Regions from separate parts of the Homo sapiens genome. Here region 2 is linked to region 1. The links come from fine-mapping of genetic effects on gene expression. A gene starts in region 1. The other region holds a variant in brackets. All regions are shown on one strand. Distances are from middle to middle.

Region 1 (2,899 bases):
CCCAGCAGGCGCTAAAGGAGAGCTGACATGATGGATAACGAAAAAGAAGACGCTGTCCTTCTATTCAGGGAGTTTAACATCTGGAAGAGCCGGGAGTTCTTTGTGCTAAAGGCCCTCTACAAAGTGCCTGAGATGCAAAAATAAGTCACTTTCTCTGTCCTCTCAGCAACCGAGTCGCATGTCGTTATCAAATTTTTATTTTCTGTAACTGTTTCCTTCCGTCTTGCTCCGTAGACAGCTTTTTGCAGCAGAGAGCGCTGCCGCGGGGCTGGTGTCTACTCTTCAGTAAGTGGTCAAAACCTGGCTACTGGAAGGAAATGCAATGGAATCGCTCCGCGCTCGAGTATTCTCTTTGGAACTACGGGAATGACAGCTCCAGTGGGACACTTGGAGGTCATGATGAACGCAAAGAACGTGAGAACACTTGCAGTCCTCGGGGTGGAAATGCCTTCTAGAAATACTAAGTATCCGTTCTCTCGTTGAGACTTTGGCAAACCAGGGATTTTAGGAAGGGTCTGGCACTCAACGTTCCTAAAATTGGTTTCCTAGATGGAGCCGGAGGGAGAGAGGGAGTCAGGAACTGCTGCTTTTCGTCGGAATGCCCGGAGGGGAGAAGAAGAAGGAGGAGGGGTGAGGGCGGGCGGCCAAACGCCAGCCGGCAGGGGACCCAGAGAAGAGGGACATCCCGGGCGACCCCGAGGAGCGCGGCTTGGGCACCGCAGTGGCCGCGGCTAGTGGGAGACCTGAGGGGAAAGGGAGAGGGCAGGGGCGAGGAACCCAGGGAGCGCGCGCGGATTGGTCCTCTCCTCGGGGCGTGCGCTCCTGTGCGCCAAATGATTGGTGGCAGGAAAGTAGCAGGTAAACCGGCTCCCGCCGCCTCGCCATTGGTCAGCGGCCTCTCTAGCCGCCACACAACTGGCCAGCGGGCTGCCGAGCCGCGCGCGGATTGGCTGGGGGCGGCCGCCGGGACCGGCTCCCTTCGGGCGTTCGGATTGGCTGGCGGGAAGAGGCAGGTATCCGGGCGCTGCGGCTCCTCCATTGGTGGGCGGGGAAGGGGGGTTGGGCACAGCGATTGGTGGGCGGGGGGCCGGGCCTGGGCCGGCGGGGAGCGGATTGGTCGGAAAGTAGGTTAGTGGTGCGACATTTAGGGAAGGCAGAAAGTAGGTCAGGGACGGAGGTGCCTGTTTACCCGCGCCGGACTCACCGCCGCCGCCGCCGCGGGATCCGAGTGCGGGCGCGGGCGCGGGCGCTCCCGGCGAGCCACGGTGAGTGTCAGGCCGGCGGCGGCCAGCGACGCGATCCCGCGCACCCCGTCGGGGGCCGTTAGCACCCTCGCGGGCGCTGCGCCCCTGCCGCCGCCCCGGGGGCAACCCGGCCGCCGAAGAACCCTGCCCGACGTGCCCGCTGCCGGCCTTAAAGGGCCCGTGACCGCTCCCTGCCCCCACCCGGGCCGTGGGGAGGCTGCGCCCCTTAAAGGCGCCGCGCCCGTCCGCCCCCATCCTCCTCGCGGGGGCTGCCGCTGCGGGCTAGGGCAGGCAGAGGTGCTGCAGGAGCCCTTAAAGGGGCCGGGAAAGTGTTCGCTGGAGTACCCACCGCCCTTCCGCGGGCATCGCTACCTGGCGGGGGGAGGGGGCAGCTAGCTGCCTCTTAAAGGGATAGCTCTGCCCTTGGGGGCAGTGACTCGGCCGAAGAGGACTCCTAGATGTGTCCCCGGGAGCTTCGGGGATCCCCGAGGGGACCATGCCTGGTGGCTGCCCCTCAAGGGCGTTGGGCGAACGGTGCCGCGTCTGCCCTTCCTCCCCGCTTCACTTCCCTTTCGGGAGCCCGCGAGGCTGGGTGGGGGCGGGGAGGGCGTCTCCGTCGGGCTTGGGGAGTCCAAGTCCGCCCGCCCCTTCGGCCCTGTAGCCAGGGCTGGCGCTGCACCCGGGAATCCCCGGCCGGCACGGGGCCGACCCCAGCCTGCGAACTTTCGTGGGGCCTGTGCCGTCCAGGTCCTGGGCGGCCCTCAAGGATGCCCCGTGGGTCTGCGGGCAGGTGCGCGTCGGCCTGGGGATGTCGCCCGGAGCCCGGGTGCGGGCCGGCCTTGGAGTCCCAGAGCTCCGCGGAGGGCGCAGCGAGCCTGGCTCCAGCTCCGGGTTTGACAGATGTCAGGGAAGAAAAGGTTCCCGCTCGGCTATTGCCGGGCGTTGACATCCCAGAGAGCTTCCCGTTTGCTTGGAAGAAGACGAGGAAGGTAGAGGTGAACGTCGACCTTGTGGGGCGCATGTTAGCCTCCCCGAGGGGTCGCGAGAGCCGGCAGCGGGGTGAGCTCAGGTGCCCGCCGGCAGGAGCTGGGGAGGGAAGGGGAGTGCTGGACACCGGCGCCTGCTGTCAAGTTCTCGCCGGCCGGTGAGAGACCCGCTGCCGCCGCGCACCCCGCACCTCCTGACCCCTCTCCCCTCTCCGCCTCGGCCCCTTCCCGGTCACCTAGCGTTGTTTTGGCGCTTTGGCGCTTGCGGTCTCTTCCTTCTTCCACCGCTACTCCTCAGCGAGGAATTATTAGCCAAGTTTTCTCACCCAGCTTCCAAAAATCAGATTCCGTATTTGTGAACAAGCTTTTCTTGACACTACCCGTATACCCGTATTTCCAGCATCGTCGTTTTATTAAACATCCATAAAAGCTGCCCCTTAGATGCATTCATTTCCCACGACACCTGCTTGCTTGTCATTTGTCCTTCTGACATCTGCTGTTGTTCACCCCTTTAATCTATTATTAAATGACAACTATTATTTTAATTCTTCTGGTCTCATTGATATCCGGATCTGTGAATTTGGGTTGGTGGAGTTTTTAATTAATGTACCCGTTGAATCATGAGCTTAAAATAATCATTGCTGCTCCTGAGCAGTTTTGAATAATATC
Region 2 (2,899 bases), 62 kb after region 1:
GACAAATGAAGGAAAAAAAACAAGCCGATTTCATTTTCATTAAGAGGAATTTGTAGAGTTATTTCTGGGGTCAGGCAGGATACATTCAGACGAACATTTTAGATCTAGGGCTGGGAAGATCCCGAGACTCGTTATAGATTACATCATCTTCCTCCAAGTGCACTTGCCAGGCAAATGGACAAGTGCATTTTAGAAAGGTTTTCAGTTGTTCACGTTTAAACAGAAAGGATCACCTGGCTAACTTTTAGTTAACCCATTGAACAGATGTGCCATTCCCCCAGCCCATTGGTTATTCATGTCCTTGTTACTGGTTTTTGATATCCTTGCCCCGTAGGTGGGAGGAGGGATGGGTATGAGCCTGCCCTGCCCTCTTTCTCCTACTTGGGACAGAGCTGTTGCTTTTATTTGCTGAGTCACTGAAGCAATAGAGCATGTGCAGAGTCCCAGCCTGGAGGTGGGCATATCTGGGTTCCAGTCCCTGCTCTAGCCCTTCTCAGCTGTGTGATCTTGGACAAGTTGCCATACCTCTCTGAGCCTCAGTGTCATCTTCTATGTGATGTCGATGCCTCCCCCAAAAGGTCGTTACGAGGACCAAAGGAGACACGTCAGGGCAGGAACCATCCTAGGCACGTGTTTGATGCTCAGTAAACGGGACGTGGTCAGTGTTCAGAGTTGTGGGGGTGGCAGGTGACTGCTCTGTTTCACCTCCACTCACAGCAACAGGGCCTGTGGTGTCACCTAGACATCTCATAGGCATCCCACACTGAACATGTCCCAAACCAGCAGCTCCTCCCTGGATGGGTGGATGGTGTACAGGGACCTCTTCCTCCAGCTGTCACATGGGGCATGTACCTGGCAAGTGGCTTTGCAGCCCTAGCTGCCCCCTTGGCTGGGGGCCTTTGTGCAGTTCATGGACTGGGAGTCACCCCCATGTCTAGACCGTCAGGAAACCCATTGGCTTTTCCTTTAGAGCATACCAAGAATCAACTTCTCAGAACATAGCAAGAGTTGACTTTTTGTCACCCTGCCGTGGCCACTCAGACTGACTCCTCTTACACCTCACATCCCATTGATCAGCACAGCCCCTGGAAATATGTCTAGAATCCAGCTGCTTCTCATCACCCCCACACCTAATACAGAGGGCTGAGTCATAGCATCTCTTCCCCGGACTGTTGTAGCCGTCTCCTAACTCAGCTTCCTGCCCTGCTTT[T/TACACACACACAC]ACACACACACACACACACACACACACATGGTATCTTCTCACCACTGCAGCCAGACTTAAAACCTAAGAGGGATCATGTCACTCCCCATTTTACTCAGAGTCAAGGCCAAGATCCTTACTGGGGTCTGCAGGCCCCCACACCTGGCCCTCTGACTGCACCCCTACCTTCCTTAGCTGTCTCCTCTCCCTAGCATGCCCCAGGTCGCTGGTCCCCTAGCACTGGGCAGCTCCCTGCGGCCCTGTTCACTAGCTGTCCTCTGCCTGGAACACATCTGTCACCTCTCACCTCCTCCTGTCCAGCCTCCTTGGGGCCTTTCTAACTGCCTCCCTCCTGTGGTCTGCCTCCTCCCCATCTCTGACTTTCCTCCCGAGCACTTACTGCCATCCAGCACCCGACATAACTTACTTGTTTCGTTTGCTTGCCTTCCTCACCAGGAGGTGTGCCAGATGAGGACAAGGATTTTTATATCCCTACCCCCATCTGCAGCACTGCCATGGAGAACAGTGCCTGGCACTTGGATGCCCTCAGTAAATATTTGTTGAGAGACTAATAAGTGATCGTGGGCCAGCATGCCAACAGTGTCTTCGTTATTACAAAATTGTCCCGAATTGAAATTTGGCTACTACAAGCAGTTTGTGGTGGAAATTTACTCAAATTACCAATTCTTTCACTGAAGAAATTACCTGGCATATGTGGGTTCTCAATAAACTGTGTTGGATTGCCTCAAGGCTTTGGGGCAGTGGTAGCCGTCTGAGGCCTCCTTGCCAGTCAACCAAACCCTGTGCTGGGTGGGACATAAGAGATGCCCCCAGCATCCTTAGCTGATGCTACTATGTCACCCCAGAATCCCTGGGGCAGCCCACCCCTCAGCAGCAGCTGTCACCCTGCTGGGTTCCGCTTTTCCTCCTGTGGGCTTCGTCTCCCTAAGGAAATCATTGTCCTTGCTTTCTACATCTTATCTCCCTGAGCAGCTCCAAAATTCTGTTATTCATATCCCACTGACCTTTCTCATTGTCCTAGTCCAAGCTTCTCACAGGAGGAGTTGTCTCTCTGTTTTATATTAAAACAAAGCGGTTGGACTCTTAAAACTCTATTCACTTTTCAGATTCTTTGGAGTCCTCAATGCTTCCTGCTATGAAATGCTGCGCTCTGGAATGCCTTCCAGACCCACCCCCAGGATACCTGTAGCCTTCCCTGCAGCCACTCTCCTCAACTCCCTCCTCGTTCCCAGGGGTCAATGTCCTGGATCTCTCCAGCTTTAAGTTCCTTCATGTCCTCTTGCCACCCCTGCTCTCACCATCTCTGAGTTCTTGTATCCCCAGGATTTCAACCTGAGTTTGCATCTCCTGACATCACTTTTCCCAGCCTTCTCCCTTTTCAACCAGCACAAGGCCATCCACTTCCATGGCCATAGTGGACGCCACTGAGCATGCTAGGTGTTTTCTTCTATTCAACTCATGTGGTCTGCACAACAACCCAGTGCGGGGAATCCACCCCTTTCACAGATGAGGCATCTCTAGCTCCTGGAAGTCACCTAACTTGCCTAGGACATGCAGCTAGTAAGTGGCAGGGCTGGGATTGGAACCCAAGAGGCCCCGCCCTGACCACCATCCTGCCCTGCCTCTCCTCGGGCACCCAGAATCCCCTCACTCTATTGTCAAAACCCACCTTGTCCTGCCTGTCTGGTA

The links.
Region 2: its variant is fine-mapped to the expression of BMAL1 in monocytes after LPS (Fairfax 2014, PIP 0.95).

What each region holds. Positions count from the first base shown.
Region 1 is chr11:13,276,659-13,279,557 of GRCh38, forward strand. BMAL1 (basic helix-loop-helix ARNT like 1) reads left to right here and starts at 1,132. Exons shown (of 20, transcript NM_001297719.2): 1 at 1,132-1,265. RefSeq lists silencers at 733-1,382, 1,453-1,522, 1,803-2,142.
Region 2 is chr11:13,338,220-13,341,118 of GRCh38, forward strand. The region is part of intron 3 of BMAL1 (basic helix-loop-helix ARNT like 1); the gene reads left to right. Among named protein-coding and RNA genes, the nearest start is that of BMAL1, 62 kb to the left of the region's middle. RefSeq lists an enhancer at 45-214. The variant T/TACACACACACAC (reference allele first, on the strand shown) is at 1,211.